2 linked regions of the Homo sapiens genome follow. The protein of the gene in region 2 purifies or fractionates together with the protein of the main gene of each other region. This does not show direct contact. Each region holds a gene or a part of one and is shown on either strand. Other genes may lie near its edges.

Region 1 (8,163 bases), on a different chromosome or scaffold from region 2:
AGTGGTTCTTAAGTGTAGTCCCTGGATCAGCAGCATCCCTTTGCCTGGAAACTGATTAGAAATGGAAATTCTTGGGCCCCACCCAAGACCTACTGAATCAGAAACTGTGGGATGGGACCCAGCCAGCCGTGATCCTGCTGTGTGGTGAGATTTGAGCCCTGCCGCACCATGTGCCTCCTAACCCAGCCTACACCCAGGTAACAGCCAACAGCCAGGTTGCACCACAGCCGTGGCACAAACTATGATGGAAAATGTGTCTTCCTGGTTTTACTCAAACTTGCATGTTTTGTTTTATTCTCTTTTTTAAAACCACAAACTCTTGGAGACTGCTAGCTTCAACTTTTTTTCTTTGCACGAGGTTTAGTGGTAGTTGTATCTTTCTGTTGAGTAATGATTAGTTGTCTCATAAGAGAGCTAACTAGAAAGACAGCCTATTCGCAGAGAATCGGAGGGGTTTTTCTTTTTCAGTTTTTAACTTTGGATAATTGACCCCCGTGTTCCCCATAGCCTGAGTCCTGCTGGGGTAGCAGCTCTGCCTAGTGGAGGGCAGGGACAGGGAAGGCCCTGGGAGAGGAAGACAGCTGGCTTACTGCTGTCAGTCTACGCTTATTCTCCGTGAACGAGCAAGTGTCCCAAGGTCCTTTGAGGGACCAGGGTCTGAGGCACTGGGCTGCTGGATGTGTGCAGCTTATGGTAGCATTGTGTTTTGCTTCTCATGAGAACCTTGTGGGAGCCAGTTCTCACCCCATACTCAGCAGGCTGAGGTCAGGGTAGCTGTTTATGGCTTACTTTTTTTAAATTTATTTTTATTTATTTATTTGTTTATTTATTTATTTATTTTGAGACAAGGTCTTGCCTTGTTGCCCAGGCTGGAGTGCAGTGCACCCTAGACCTCCCGGACTCAAGGCATCTTCCTACCTCAGCCTCCTGAGTAGCTAGGACTACTTAAGAGGAAGCAGGGGAGGAAGGGGACGTGGAGGTGGGGGGTCCTCTCTAGGTTGCCCAGGCTGTTCTTCTGGGCTCAAGTGATCTTCCTGCCTCAGCCTCCCAAAGTGCTGGGATTACAGGTGTGAGCCACTGTGCCCGGCCTACTGGTTTATTTTTTAAAGCACATGGCACCATCTTACTGTGAACTATCTTTTCTCCTCAGCACATTCCCACATTTGGGAGTAATAGTTAGCTGGAAATACTGTGGGTCTTTTAATTTAAACTTTTGTTTAGTTGTAAATTTCAAGCTCATTGGACAACACAAACAGCAGTTTTATCTTGAGATGCAAGTTTATGCTGTGCATCAGAGCAACGGTATTAGCTGACGCTACTCATCCATTCAGCATATATTAAAATTTATTGAGCACCTATCTTGAGGCCATGCTCTATTCCAGGTCTTGGGGATACATAGTGAACAGGACAGACAGGAACCTCTGCCTCCCTGGAGCAGACAATGTAGTAGAAGGAGGCAGGGAGTGAATGAAGTAAATAAGCAAGTACTAGGGAGAGAATCAAGGTAGAGAAAGGGAATGGAGCCCTGGGGCTGGGGGTGGCAGAGAGATTTCCAGTTTTAAATTGGGTGATCAGGGAATGTCCCACCTAGAAGATGCATTTGAGCAAAGGCAGGCAGGAGACTGGACCATGTGTTTTCCCAGGGAAATGGTGTTCTTGGCAGAGCAGACAGCAAGCACAGAGTCCCTGTAGGCCTGGTCTGTGCTGGGCACTGTACTGAACACTTGATGCTGACTATTGAATTGACTGGTCACAGCATCCTTGGAAGCTGGTTCTGCCATTATGCCCATTTTACTGATGAGAAAACGGAAGCTCAGGGAGATTAAATTACTTACTGGCGGTGTCACAGGTCATATTGGGTACTGCTGGGACTTGAACCTGACAGTTCAGTTCAGCCTCAGGGCCCATGTGTCTAACCAGCATTGCCAAACAGTCTCCCAAGCAGAGATTTGGAAGCCTATTTTATTTATTTATTTTTATGGTTTTTTTTTAATTGAGATGAAATTCACATAATGTAAAATTAACCATTTTGAAGTGAACAATTCAGTGGTGTTTAATATTAATACATTCACAACGTTGTACAATGAACACCTCCGTCCAGTTCCAAAATGTTTTCGTCAACCCAAAAGGAAACCCCATACCCATAAAGCAATTGCTCCCTGTTTCCCCCATCCCCTCCCAGCTCCTGGCAACAACCAATGTGCATTCTGTCCCTATGGCATTTACCTATTCTGGAATTTCATTTAGAAACGGAATCGTGTATTTTATTCATTTTTTGTATAAACTTCACAGATAAGCAAGCACGCACAGTGAAAATCGAGCCTCTTTCCCTGGTCTGTCTAGTCAAGTGTTCTGGGTGTAATAAGCATGTGTGTGTTTCTGCCAGCCCCAGTGGTGGCATGCTGTTCCACTGCACAGCGTCTTGGCAGTGGCTCTACATCAGCATGTGTTCAGCTGGCTATACGTGGCTGCTGTGCAATGTGCCTAGGTCACCTAAGGTCACCTAAGCAGCCCTCACTGATGGGCCTTTGGAATGTACCCACCTACAAGGGGCAGGCGTAGCTGCAAGATGAGCTCCCAGGAGTGGGACTGTGGGGCTGCGTGGTTTGTGTCCTTTAGGTGTGGCTTGGTTGCTTCCTGCAGAGCTCATGCCAGGGCTGAGCTGCCAGCTATGTAGGAGAGGGTTTGCTCCACACCTGCTTTGGTGGCAGAGCTTCCATCTGCTCTTCTGCGACCTACCTTGGGGCAGAGGAGGAAGTCTTTCGGTCTGAAGATTGGCAGTCATTGCCTGGCCCTGTGTGGGGACCATGAAGAGACCACATGCTCCTCCAGACCACTCCTCCCTTGTCGGTAGCCTGAGGAGGCTGGACAGCTGAGGGGCTCCCTCCCACAGATACTTTTTCCTCCCCTACATCTGGTATTACTTGAAAGATTTTGTCTACCCAACACGCTACATTTGTTAAATAATGGTTAGATTCTACTTCCAAACAGAAGAATGTTTAATGGTGCAGGGCGCTTGGCAGTGAGAGTCAGAGTGACACAACTCCCCATGAGAGGTGATGTCACTCAGGCCAAAAGCAAAGCAAAGTAGATGTTTGGGTTAGCTTGGGCCCCTTCCTAGGTTGAACTGAAGGTGTCCCTTTGGGCATTTGACTTTGTGGGAAGAGCTTGTGAATCCCTGTTGCCACCTTTGTAAGCCCTTAGAGTCTCAAGATGCCCAGTTTCCAGTTACTGATTAACTTGGCACGGGAACTCTCCTGGCACTTTCCATGGCTGGTCTTTGTGGGTTTAGTAAAATAGGATCCTACAGAGGCGTGTCTCTTTCCCTACTCTGCTGGGCCTACTTCCTCCTCCAGCCATCCTCCCCACCCCCTGTCCCCGTTGCCTCTTTGTGTCTCTCTGTCCATGTTGTTGGGTTTTTGGTCTTCTAGGCGTTGCTCCTGGCCTACACCACCTAGTGCAGTGTGGCTTCTGTTTTAGCACCACTGCTGACACTGCAGAGGTGGGGTGCAGAGGGCACCGTGCCTTTGTTAGTTGTGCCCCACCGTCTCCTCCATGTGATCCACCTATCTTCCTCACACTGGTCCTCTTCTCCCTTTCTAAGGAAAAAGGACACAAGCCGGGTGTGGTGGCTCACACCTGTGATCCCAGCGACTCAAGAGACTGAGGCAGGAGAATTGCTTGAGCCCAGGAGTTTAAGACCAGCCTGGGCAACATAGTGAGACCCCATCTCTACAAAAAACACAAAAATTAGCCAGGCATGGTGGTGCACACCTGTAGTCCCAGCTACTTGGGAGGCTGAGGTGGGAAGATTGCTTGAGCCCAGGAGGCTGAGGCTGCAGTGAGATATGATCATGCCACTGCACTCCAGCCTGGGTGACAGAGGGAGACCCTGTCTCAAAACAAAAACAAAAACAAAAAACCCCACAAATAAACCACTTGTCATAGGCTGGGTTTCCTGGGAAGCTGACTGAGACAGAGTTGACCATACAAGGGCTTATTAAAAGGTGCTTTTGGGGTCCCCACCTGTGGAAGATGGAGAAGGAATCAGGAGTGGGTAGAGGAGAGCTGAGCTGCTGGGACCTGACCCCGCAGGGAGCCTGGGAGCTGGAAAAGTCCTTTAGGGTCATCCTAGTTGGCCTGACATGGCCTGGCCTTCACACTCCCTCATGGATCAGCTGTTGGCTGTGGGCTGCCCAGGAAGATGGTGACTTTGGGCGAGGCAGCTCTGTGCAGCTGGGATAGTCTCTTCAGGGGCTGACAGGAGGGCAACCTGCCTGCCGCACCCCAGCAGCTGTGCCCTCCCCTGTCCTCGCCTTCATCGAAGGGCCTTTGCAGCATCCCCACAGTGCCCCCTTCCTGGGGGCAGGTAGGAGCGGGTGACTTGGGCATTATGGTTCTAGTAGTAGCTACCGTGTGTCAAGTGCCAGTGGTGTGCCGGGCACTGGAGTTCAGTGCTTTGTGGGCCTTGTTGGCATTTAACCTGCACACTTAGTTTTGATGTAGGCACCATTCTCTGTTTACAGTTGAGAAACCGAGGCCAGAGAGGTTAAGTGACTTGCTCAAGACCATATGGGTACAAGTAGTGGTGCTCCCATACCAGTCGGGATTTTGCTTCTGCTCTGACCACTTGCATGGTGGGACTAGGTGGTCTCTCACGTCTGAGTGGATGCCTTCTATTGCCCCTCCAGATTCATTCTCCACCCACGTACTGTAGGGAGCTTTTGTGGGCTCCTTGCGTTTTCCATGCCTTCTTCCCCCATATTTCAGGCTGTGGACTTTTTTTTTTTTTTTTTGAGACAGAGTCTCGCTCTGTCGCCCAGGATGGAGTGCAGTGGCGCGATCTTGGCTCACTGCAAGCTCCGCCTCCCAGGTTCAAGCCATTCTCCTGCCTCAGCCTCCCGGGTAGCTGGGACTGCAGGCGCCCGCCACCACGCCCAGCTAATTTTTTATATATATGTTTTTAGTAGAGATGGGGTTTCACTGTGTTAGCCAGGATGGTCTCGATCTCCTGACCTTGTGATCCACCCTCCTTGGCCTCCCAAAGTGCTGGGATTATAGGCGTGAGCCACTGCGCCCGGCCTGGGCTGTGGACTTTTGTGTCCCCTGGACCTGAAGCCCCTGTGCTCACCCTCCCTGCTGTGGGTGGGCCTGGGGATCTGTCACGGCTAAAGCTAACCAGGAGAGAGCCACATTCTGCTCGCTGTTAGGACCAGAGGGGTGGGAAAGGCAAGAATAAGCAGGTTCCAGGGTCTCCTGTACCCAGGAAGTGGATGGACAGGCCTGCTCCTCACCAGCATGGAGAAAGGAAGGGTTGGCATTGTGTTTGGTTTTTCTGTCTTTGGTGGATGTCCTTTCAGCAGTATCCTAACCCAGAAAACTGCAGTGACAGACCCCCCTTAGCCTGGGATCCTGAAAGCAGGTGTGACTCCTCCTGAGAATGGCCCTGCCCTGACCGGGGCCAGGGAGCCTGTCTTACTTGATTTTACTTTCCTGGCAATGCACAGGGTTAAACGAGCAGTCCAAGCAAGGAACATGTGGATGTCCTATCTATGTACCTACATGTCCTATTTGCATGACTACAGATGCCCTATCTGCATGTCTACATGACTACAGATGCCCTTCCATCTGACAGTCTGTTGCACACTGAGCTGCTCCTCGTTTTCATGACTTTTTTTTTTTTTTTTTAAATTGAGACGGAGGCTCACTCCGTCACCCAGGCTGGAGTGCAGTGGTGCGATCTTGGCTCACTGCGGCCACCGCCTCCCCGGGTTCAAGCGATTCTCCTGCCTCAGCCTCCTGGATAGCTGGGATTACAGGCGCGCACCACCATGCCCGGCTAATTTTTGTATTTTCAGTAGAGACAGGGTTTCGCCATGTTGGCCAGGCTGGTCTTGAGCTCCTGACCTCAGGTGATCTGCCCGCCTTGGCCTCCCAAAGTGCTGGGATTACAGGCGTGAGCCACTGCACCTGGCCCTTCATGACTTTTTAATTACTGTTTATCAGACTTTATTAGCAATAGATGCTTGAAATATGGTGCTTAATTCCAGCCTAGATTAAAAAATCGAGCATTTTTCACATAAAAGGAAACAACATGGGCTAGTCTTGTAATAAAGCAGCCCCTCCAGAATTCCAGAACAGAGGTCTGTCTGTGTTCCCCAGAGGCACTGGCTAACCAGCCTCCTCCCATATCAGGCATTTCATTAAACCCAAACCAACTGCTGAAGTGGAAGAAAGTGACAGAAGCTCAACAGCTGTGTGCCTCTGTCTGAGTGACTGGCATGACTAGATATGATGACGTGGGGACTGCCACCAGAATGCCTTTTGGAGATGTGCCATAATTTGAACCAGCCGAATCCAGGTTTCCATTGACATGGAAGTAAATTTCTGACTCTGCTGGTAACATTTGTCAGTGACATTCAAGACTCCAATCTCTCTGGCCCTGCAGATGCACACCCAGGGATATGGGGATGCCCAATCCTTTAGACATCGGGCAGTCTCTGTGCATTCTTTTAAAAAATTGAGGCAGAGTCTCACCATATTGCTTAGGCTGGTTTTGAACTCCCAGCTTCAAGTGATCTCCCACCTCAGCCTCCCAAAGTGCTGGGATTACAGTCGTGAGCCACTGTGCCCAGCCCATGCATTTTTTTAATGGACCAGGCAATCTTCCTAAGTCAGGAAGACATGTATTCTTAACCTTTTATTGATGTACGATGTACACATATCATAGATGTTCACAAAGTGAACCCATCTGTGTAGCCAACACCCAGATCAAGGCAGAACATGACCATCACCCAGGACGCTCCTTGTGCCCCTGTACAGTCACCACCAAGTGTCCAAGGATCAGCTGTCTGATTTCTGATAGCAAAAATGGGCTTTTAAACAAACATGGGATTTGATGTAACTTTTAAAAACTTGGAAAATGTAAAAACACATTATGGCATGTTTGGGGATGGATGAATGGAGATCGTGTGGCTGACCTGGGTGAAGCTTGGGCTGGAGACAGCAAGGAGTTGGTGCCGTCTGCCCAGGGCCACCTCCACTGTATGTCCTCCTGGGCTGGAAGCTCGCCCTGTAACAGCGGTGACTCCTGTGTGGTCAGTGGTCAAGGACTGGATACCGTCTCGGTCCTCTGTGTTCTCTGAAGGGATGTGACTACATCATGTGCCTCAGCCCCGTCCCTGCATGCCATCTCTCTCCACAGCACTTCTCTTCAGAGTTTTCCAGGGGCAGAGGTGAGGAAGCTCTCAAACTTCATTTAGATAGGTTCATCTTTTTGCTCAATCAGCAGGTCAATGATGCATACGTGTCAGGTCACACTGTGTTCTCAGCACTGGGTTGAGTGCTGTGGGGAAGGACAGCCAGTGCGATGGATTCACACTCCTCTCACTGTGACCTTGGAGACCCTCGCTCTGGCCCACCCCTCCTGTGCCTCACCTTGCTCCTTCTTCCCCGTCATCCCAGCCTTGTTTTCTCTGAGCCTGTTGAGGTCCTTGCCTTGGTGGCTCCCAACGGATGTTCTTCTGGCCAGTGCTGTGCTGCCAATGCCACCAATCCCTTCCAAGCAGGCTGATCTGCTGGGAGCTGTAGCCCTGGCGCGTCCCGACATGGATTCCCACAGCGTCTGCCTGTCCCGTCATGCTTTCTCTCTGGAGTCCTCCCTCCTTGGTATGGTATGTTTCTGCTCTGTTCTTTTGTGACCAGGAAAGAATGTCTTGTTTCTTCCATCCAGCCCTCCTGCTCTTTCCATTAACAGTCCAGAACATGAAACGGTTATTTTGACATGATCATTCTTGCCAGGGGTCTTAAAAAGTTATGTTTCTTTACATCTGTTGATTTGTGACTGTCACATAGGAGACAGAACTGTGCAAGAAAGACACATATTTGGGAGTCAGGAAACCAGGTCTTCTGGGCCTGATACCACCAGCAGCTCAGGGTGTGATGTTGGGCAAGTCCCTCTAGCTCTATTGAGCCAAGATGACCTCTCAGGGTCCTTCCCGGCCCAAAGTCCTGTGACAGTGGCATTAGGTATAACTAGATGCCTGGGTTTCAGCTAACCATGTAACAGGGACTGGGCAGCATTATTGTTGGCAGTGGCAGAGAGCCTGGAAAGGCAGAGGCCAAGCGGCCTGGCATCCCAGCCCCTTTCCAGACCTTTACGGA
Region 2 (8,835 bases):
TTTGGGAGCCATCAAACTCCTAAGTTGATACACGGGGTGGATATGTGGGGTGAGGATATATGGGGTGAGGGGCCGGCGGGGGAAGTGGCCGGTTACCTGGAGCCTGAGGAATCGGGGCCGGGCATAAGGTGGCAAGTTCTCAGACACGTGGGTGTAGAGCTGCATAAGGTCCAAAGCGTGGGGGGGACGCAGAACTAGGGCTGCCATTCCAGCCCTGCCTTCATGCCCTGGTGGGTGTGGGAGACAGAGTAAGCCCCTCCATGGCTGACCACCACGAAGGCCTCGTGCTCCCTGCGCCCAAGTACTACCAATTCGGGGTGGTGGCTGGGTGCCTCCCCCACCTTCCATGCCTAGGCACCTGGCACAGTGACTCCATAGACGTTCACCTCCTGAAGAAAATCTAGGGCCTCGAAGACCTCTGCCACCTCGGTTGTGGCCACATTCTCCCCCTTCCACCTGTCAGAGAGCAGAGATCTGAAACTGGGAGTCAGGGGTCAGGGCCTTATGGGCTTGGTGGGGAGATGAGGTCAGAGGTCAGTGTCACAGGGATGAAATGGTGAGATCTGAGAATGAGAGATTAGCTTAGGACCCAGGTTGAGGTGGCAGATTAGAGAGTTGAGGTTCAGAAGCTTTGGATCACAGAGATCAGATGTCCAGGATGAAAAACCAGTTATGGACAGATACCTGAAGGTGTCTCCAGTACGATCATGGAAGCGGAGAAAACCTTGGTCATCGCAGACCAGCAGGTCCCCAGTGTTGAAGAAAACATCCCCAGGCCGGAAGACATCCTTTAGCAACTTCCCCTGGGCCAGCTCTGGCCCGCCAGCATAGCCCAGGAATGGGGACTGCTGGCTTACCGGGGCCACCAGCAGCCCTGGCTCACCTGGCAGAGTCACCAGGGTCAGGAGTGGTGTCACCTTTCCCAGAGCCTTCTGCCCCCATCCACCCCAGTCTCCAATTCCAGTCCTCCTGTGCCAGCTTCAGCACCCCGCCCACCCCACCAGAACACCACCAACCTGGAGATGTGGCCATACAGTGCCCCTGGGGGTCCCGAATTGGCTCTCCTGTGGTGACATCATAGCGAATCAAGGAGAAGGGGAAGATATGCTGGGGAAAGGGAGACCTGGGTACTGGATCATTGCAGTCACATGAGCCCCCTCTCCTGCCAGCCCTCTGCTGTTCCACGGGTTTTCAGTTTCCTCTCTGCCCCTCACCTTGTAAAGCCAGGAAGCACGCCCCACAGCGCCCCGCTGTCCTGTGTAGTTGATGGTGGCCACGTTGCCCTCTGTCAGTCCATATGTCTCCAGCACCTGCAGGGGCCCGAAGCGCCGCACAAAACGCTCCCAGGTATCTGGGCGCAGCCCGCTGCCCACTGCCAGCCGGACCTTATGGCCACGTTCTGCCTTGCTCTGAGATGAGTGGGAGAGGGGCCGGAGCTTCAGCATCAAGATGCCCGCTCCCGGAAGTGAATTCCTGTTCCCCATTCCCCAGAACCCCCTCCTACTGTGACCTCCTTCAGAGGCCGTAAGCATCAGATGGCCTAGGCCATCTCTGGCTCCTTATCTTACACTGCCATTTTCTTCTTGCTGCTTCTCCCTCCAACTCCCTGTCTCCTGTCAACTGTCCTGCTCCCCGTGAGCTAGCCCTGTGTCAGCAGCTCTGCCCAGGATCTGTGCCCACGCACCGGGGGCTGGTTGACAAGGTATCGGCACAGCTCCCCAATGTACTGGAACACCGTCACCCTGTGCTGCTGGCAATCTTCCCAGAACTGACCAGCCGAGAACTTGGATTTCAGCACCACTGTGGCCCCTGCCAGAAGTGGGCAGGGGGGAAGAAGGGAGGTAAGATTAGGAGCAGAGTGGGGAGCCCAAGCCCCTCTTTCCAGACCCCAGCCATCACTGTAGTCTTTCCCTGGGAAGGGCCCACTGTGGGAGTCACACCGTCAGGAAGCCGTGCTGGCCCTCTTTCCCCTCCCCCGGCCCCTGTCCCCAGCCTTAGAAGAGGTGAATGCCCTTTCCCTACTTCCCAGCCCCAAAGATCTCATCCTCCACACTCTCACTTCCTTGTCTCTCTCTCCCTCTTCTCTTACTTGCCTGTTCCTGGACTGACACAGTCCTTCCCTGCCTTTGACCCTGCAGCCTGGAGTTATGTGGCTGTATGGCCCCCCTCACCGTTCCTCAGTCTGTAGGTCTAGGCAGGTGACATTGCCCTATTGTACAGAGCTCCTGGTGAGTAGGGCTCTGCCCCATCCGTCCTCTAGATTATCTACCCTGGAGGACTCACACCATAGTACGTGCTTAATAAATGTCTACTGGATGAATTAATGAAGGTGGGGTTGGGGAGACTGACCAATGCCCATGCAGCCCACGATGCCCAGCAGGGAACCGGACATGTGGTAGAGTGGGAGGGCGAGGTAGATCACATCTTCCTGGTGGACACCACACAGCTGATAGAAGCCCTGGCATTGCAGGATCTTCAGATGACTGATCCGAGCAGCCTTGGGGAGGCCTGTGGGGTGGCAGTTATGGGACGATCAGGGGAAGGGCAAACTCCAAGCTCTACCTATCTGTTTGCACCCCCGCTGGGTTTCCCACAGAAAGAGGCGGAGGCAGGACAGAAGCTGAGGACCGAGACCAGGCTGTCCTGGAAATATGGGTGGTCTGGGGGAGGTGGAGAAATGAGTAGGAGGTGAGGAGACTGGGGAGTGAAATGATGGGGAGAAAAAGGATGTGCCAATGAAATCAGCATCCTCTCTGGGGGCTTTGAAGGAGTGGTCTGGGAGCAGACCCCTGCCTTCCTCTGCCTTGGTTTCGGGGAGCTAAGTATGGTGCCCGGCCCTCACCCGTGGTGCCAGAGGTGAAGATGTACAGGCACGTGTCTGTTATGCTCTGGGGGGAAGAGAGGTATCCTGGCACTGGCCCATCCACTTCAGCGGACACTTCAGCCAGCAAATCGCTAATTCCAGCAGGGTGGGTTCCTGGGCCTGCAGCCCACAGGTGGAGCCCCATGGCTCTCAGGGCGGGCAGGTCCGGCTCCAGGGACTCCAGAAACTCTAGAAGGGTGGGAAAGCACAACGCCGGGGCCCTGGCTCTACCTAGAAGAGCCTATGACCCATGTCCCCTCCCTATCCCAGCCCACACTGCTCTTGGATGAGGGTGAAGGGTATGGACATTCCATCTTGGGTCTGAGGCCTGGAACTCGACTCCTTGGGGATCCTTGGGGCACCAAAGATTCAGCCTCATCCCTTCTCAAACCCGGAGACTCCTATCTCCACCCACTTTCGAACCCCAAGGGATAGTCGGCTTCTTCCCAGGCCCAGGGATGAGACCAAGCCTTTCTGTGGTCTCCGACACGCCCCCTTCTGTGGCTGGCCCCGCCTTAGTCAGTTCGGAGCTCCAGCCTTACCTGGCGCCAGCACCAGCGCGCGCGCGCCGCAGCTGCGGAGGCAGTGCAGCAGGGGGCCCCGGCGCAGGGCGGTGGGCACAAAGGCAGTGCGCAGGCCGGCCTTGGCCAGCCCGAACCAGAGCCACAGAAACTCTGGGCCAGCGGGGAGGAGCAGCGCCACAGTTGCTCCAGGTGACAGAGGGGCGGCGGCTCCTCCACCTCTGGCGGCACCGTCCCCTCCGGCAAACTCCGCGCCGCTTCCGGCCGCTGCATCTCCGGCTCCCGGCGCTGCCCGCTCGCCTTCTCCAGCGCTCCCCTCGCCGCTGTCGCCGCCGTCGGGTCCCCAGTCCCAGCCTAGCGCACGTAGGAAGGCGCGTGCAGCCCTGTTACTCTCGCGCTCCGCCTCTGAGTAGCTAAAGCGCCGCGAGCCGTGAATGAGAAAGGTGTGCGCGGCGCGCTGCTGGGCCAGTTCCGCGAGGCGCCAGGCCAGGCTGCAGCCCCCCTCGGGACCTTCCGGGTCGGCGGCAGCCGCGGCCAGGGCGCGAGCTCGAAGAGCCCTTTTGCAGCACAGAGCTCGCACCGCAAAGGCCAAGTCCGCCGGAAGCCAGCGCAACTGCGGCCAGAGGTGTAGCTTCAGCAGCAGCAGCGGTAGCAACAGCAGCAGGGGCAGCAGCAGGAGGGCAGCCATGGAGCCCGCTTCCTCTATCGGCACCGTCTGGTTCCAGCCGCTCGCAAACATCCCTGATCCTCCCTTCCGAAAACCTAGGGCCGCTCGTTCTAGCTGAGACTTCTCCTTCCAGGGAGCGCGCGTGCGCTGGCACACGCCCATTCCCACCCAGGCCCCCACCACTCCACACGGGCGGAGAGCAGAAACCCGGGAGGAGTGCGGGTGTGGGGCGGCCCCGGACTCCCAGCCCTCCCCCCACAGCCTACGCTCCGCCCTAGGCGCGCTCCCTCCCGGACTGCTCGCGGCTCGCACCCTACCAGGTCCTGGGCGGTGCTCGCGCCTTCCCTGAATCCCAGGGTTATGTCTGTCTTCTAAGTTGTTTCTCGGCTTGGGCGGTTTAGGCATCTGGCTAAGCCCTAGAGTCCAGGCCTGAGAGCCAGGGCGTTTGGATCGCAGTCCATCTTCCCCTCAATATTTCTCGTTTTCCCGTTAAGGGAAGGTACCATTGCTCTCTCCCAAAAGAATGAACTTGGCCCCTGGCCCATTTGGTTCTGCAAGTCCCGGCCTGCCAGCCGCAACCCCAGGGGATGGGTGGGGGCTGAGAGTTAAATAGGGGAAAGGTGGAAACCCAGACTGCCAGATTTCTGAGGGGTCACGACAGAGGCCCCTCCCTTTGGGCAAGGGTACAATAATTGGGGCCAGCCAGCAAATGCTCTCCATCCTGGTTTTAATTGGGACAGAGGAAACTGGGGAAGGAGAGAGGAAGGAAAAAGAAGCCTCCAGTGGTTTAGACTTTCAAAGGAAGCAACAGCAGTGATGAGGGAGGGGAGAACCTGGATTCTGTAAAAAGACAAATTTTCGGGGTGAAGAGGAGCAGCTCTGTGCAGTTCGCCCAAACTTCACTCCTCAGTCCACCTCCATTCTCCCTGGACAGCGGGGGAACAACAGCATAGCCAAGGAACTCTCCTCTGCTGGTTCACATGGCCCAGCAAGTGGCCACACTGTGGAAGGAAGAGCATCTCTGTCCCTCCCTGGTATCCAGACTTTATCTCCAGGTACAGTTGTCCCTGGAGACCAAGCTGGAGCATCCCTCCCGTCAAGCAGCGAGTCCTCCGGCCATTCTTGGTAGGCACACAGACTTCAACTGGAGGATGACAGACCTTTTGGAAGCATCTTGTTTCTTGAGAAATGAGTAAGGACAGGCCTCATCCTACGGGGGATGGTTCTGCATAGACAGATCAGTGCCTGGCTCCCACCTCCAGTGGCAGCAGGAAGGATGGGTAGTGGCCAAAGCCAAGTCCCTTCTGCTCTAGACAAAAGTGGGGGCAGAACAGGAAGGGAAAGGGGGATGTTCTGCGGTTACAAGTAGGGGTGCCAATCAAATCAAGACCAAGCTATACATGCACGGGGCAAATGCCAGCAGACACTCCAGCACAAAAGACATTCTGGCTTGTTTTATTGTCATTTAAAAACAACTTTTAAGACACGATTATCTCTGCCAAAAAAAAAACAAAAAAAAACAAAAAAAAAAACAGACTCAAGGAAATGGGATCATTTGACAATTCTGTGAAACTTGCCTCTGGGACTCCCTGGGCTCTGGTGTAGATTGAGGTGCCAACCTCAGACCAACCTAAGCCTCCAGGGCACACCACGTGGGGCTGTGGCCACCCTTTCAGACTCCTTTCTGAATGCTTGTGGCATCTGCCCCATGATTAGGAATGGACACCCTGACCACGTCATAGATGCCCATTTCACACTGGCATGTGGATAGTGACTATAAAACGTCCCTTCAGAACAAACCAAGACCTGAAGGGGAAGCAGGAAGGGACACCCACACACTGAGTCTCTGCTCTCATCCTAGCTTATCTGGCCAGCTGCCCCTTTGTCATTTCCCTTCTCTGTTGAAATGGCTCTTTGGGAGACTGGGGGAGGAGATTGCGGAAGGGGCCAGGGGGCTGAGGACTTCCACTATGGTCTGATTTTACAGAGCCTCTGGCTTCAGTCAGATCCCAAATATCACTGGGAACAGCAGTGTGAGGGGCTGGAGGCCCCAGGAGGAGGGAAGGGGCTAGGGGCTGCATGGCAGCTTCTCAAACTCAGCCAGAGGAGAAAGCTCCTCCTTCCACCGGGGGAGCTTGGGGATGCAGCAAGGGTGTTTCCCCTGCAATCTCCTCAGCCTCTATTAACCTTTGAATCACCAAGAAGGAGAGGGCAGTCCAGCCGGGGGTGGGATGGGGAATGCAGGGCCTCAGTCACTGTCAGAGCCCACTGCAGAGGACCCTTTTCGTTTCCGCTTGGTAGGCTTCGGTTTCGTGTCTTCCTCTTCCTGGAAGAGATGGGAGGGGAAATGGGAAGTTAACAGCCTGGGCAGCTGCTGGCGCCGACTCCACCTGCACCCAGTGCTCCTTTTCCCCCTGTGCACTGGCTGGGTTCTCACTGAAGCACTGCTGGAGCCCGACTCTTCTTCGGCATTGGGGGGCTGTGTGGCATTCTTTCGACTTCGAGGGCTGGACAGAGCTGCTTTTCGCCGGCTCTTGGGTGGCTTGGTGGAAGAGTCCTCATATTCCTCCGCCAGGGAGAAGAGATCACTGAATCTAAGGAAAAGGAGCGGTAGCTCTTTGAGTGGGAGCCTGCTGCTCCTACGGCACCTCCCATCCTCTTCTCTGCCCCCAGGCCTAGGCCTTCTTTTTCTTCAACCCTGGACCCTAAGGTCTTGCTGGCCATTACGTTTATGTCCCTAGCAGGCTTCCTCTCCCTTAGGCTTTTCCCCTACTACTTTCCAAGGCCCAAAGTGGCAGGAGCCTCACTTCATCTTGTGGGCTTCGTCACAGCTCGCTTGGACATGCTGCAGCGCCTGGAGAATTGGCGTCTGGCTAAAAACTAGAGGAAGAAAAGGGAGAGCAGGGAAGGAAAAACAATCAGATGTCTGGGAGCTTATTAAACAGCACGCACAGGTTGTTTTATCCCGAGTGTGGGTTGTGGCCCCGGGTGTCCTGCCCCTGCCCCCAGCCTGGCTCCAGGCATAGTCTGGGCCAGGGCAGCACCGTCTACACTGGACGCCGAGGGTGGAAGGCATACAGTTCTGCTTGGTGTTGGTCAGGTTGAGCCGCAGATTGTCCAAGTGCTCCAGGATCTGCTCCAGAGTCAGCTGGGCCAGCTTGCTGCTAGAGCTCCTCAGGCTGTGCAGGAATCACCAGAGCCAGAGTCTGAGTGTGGGAGGGTTCCAGAGTGCGAGACACCCTCCACCCGCCAGGGCCCCCTTAAGACAGAGGCAGCCTACATGGGGAACAGGATAGGCAGCCTGGGAGGGCTGGGGTTGGGTGAGAAAGGTGTGCCTAGAACAGGGGATCCTGGCCACAGGGGCACTGGAAGATGGGGAGAAAGGGCCACGGTGGTCTCGCATGCCATGTGGCTTCGGACCACTAGATGTCGCCCACAAACCAGGCTGGGACAGCACTGACCCCCATCACCACCACCACCACCACCACCACCACCACCGACAGCAATCACTGCAGACCGCCATGGCCTGGAGGGTAGACAGGGACCGTGTCCCACCTCTGTCTCTTGCGAGGCAGGCTGTTGTTCTTGATGAGCAGGGACTTGATGTGCTCGGCCAGCAGCTCGTCATGTTTCATGCACCAGTGCCGCAGGATGCTGGTGGTGAACTGGTCGTCAGGATGGCAGGGCCGGCTCAGCACCATCTTCACCATCTCCTCGCTGGGCCTGGGGGAGGAAGGGGGCACTGGGTGCTGCTTGCACAGTGGCCGCAGGGCATGCTGGGTCTCTCCCACTTATTTCCCAAGCCCTGGCCTCCCCACCCACCCACTACTCTCACATCCCTCTCCCTCTTCTCCTTAGGCCAAGGAATGCCTGGTTTCATCCTCTGTGGAAGCCAGGAGAGAAGAAGTGAGATTCTTCACTTGCTGTGGTAGGAGAAGGCGTGTGCGTGTGTGTGTTGGGAAGGAGGACCCTCAGTTCTCCTCCTCCTCCCCTAGAACAGTCAGGGAGTGGGCCTGGGAGGCAGAAGCACAAGCATGTGGCATGCAGATGCTCCCCTACCCCTACCCTGCTAAAGCTGTGGGCCAACCTGGCTTCCAGCTGGAGGAAGGGGGCAGGAGAGGGTTGTGAAGTCACAGCCCCATACAGCCTCCAAGCTTCCCACTTCCTCTAGGACACTCTGTACCATTTATAGTCTCTCAGGCAAGAGAGCAGAAAGGGTGGAAGGAAGGCAGAAAGGTAGGAAGGATAAGATACACAGCTGCTGCCCCATTTATCGGGGGATGTTGCTAAAGGGCTTTGCGGGAAGAGGGGGCTGCCACCCTCTCCCTCTCTGCCCCACCCTGTCAAGGCACAGTAGGTCCAGCTGGCTCTGCTCTGCACAGGGTGAGGGAGAGGATGGTGCGTGACCCCTCTACCCTGACCCTCCCTCCTCTTGGATTAGCTGTGCGGTGGCCAGCAGGAGCATGGGGCGGTGGGGGGGGCGCGGCGGGGAGCAGGAGCCACCAGGGATTAGAACTGCTGTGGCAGCAGGAAACAGGGATGTCCGGTCCCCACCTCCCCACCTCCGAGGGCAGCTCCTGGTGGGCAGGGGGGTAAAGTCGAGAGGAAGCCCAGATCCCAGGGGAGCTGCTCATTTGTAAGTCACGTTGGGGGAAGGGCAGAATAAGCAGATGTTAACGACAGGAAAAAATATGGCAATAAGGAGGAGGACAGAAGCCCTTTAGACCACAGCAGCTCTTGGGATGTTAAAATTGAGGGCTAAAGAGCCCCAGAAGTGGAACTCA

What was found.
Region 1: the proteins of SLC27A3 (region 2) and LIMD1 purify together in Homo sapiens (affinity purification with mass spectrometry; 3 studies listed by BioGRID and IntAct, with this or other methods). This does not show direct contact.

Annotation. Positions count from the first base shown.
Region 1 is NC_000003.12:45,597,165-45,605,327, forward strand, and holds part of LIMD1 (LIM domain-containing protein 1), read left to right. Parts: intron 1-8,163. UniProt on the Homo sapiens protein: Adapter or scaffold protein which participates in the assembly of numerous protein complexes and is involved in several cellular processes such as cell fate determination, cytoskeletal organization, repression of gene transcription, cell-cell adhesion, cell differentiation, proliferation and migration.
Region 2 is NC_000001.11:153,770,735-153,779,569, reverse strand, and holds the start of SLC27A3 (long-chain fatty acid transport protein 3), read right to left. Parts: upstream 4,164-8,835; 5' UTR 4,073-4,163; coding exon 3,406-4,072; intron 3,053-3,405; coding exon 2,843-3,052; intron 2,509-2,842; coding exon 2,350-2,508; intron 1,810-2,349; coding exon 1,685-1,809; intron 1,410-1,684; coding exon 1,215-1,409; intron 1,108-1,214; coding exon 1,017-1,107; intron 884-1,016; coding exon 685-883; intron 457-684; coding exon 359-456; intron 228-358; coding exon 97-227; intron 1-96. Other genes in the region: INTS3 (integrator complex subunit 3), read right to left, coding at 6,300-6,377, 6,489-6,645, 6,859-6,931, 7,130-7,230, 7,607-7,774. UniProt on the Homo sapiens protein: Mainly functions as an acyl-CoA ligase catalyzing the ATP-dependent formation of fatty acyl-CoA using LCFA and very-long-chain fatty acids (VLCFA) as substrates.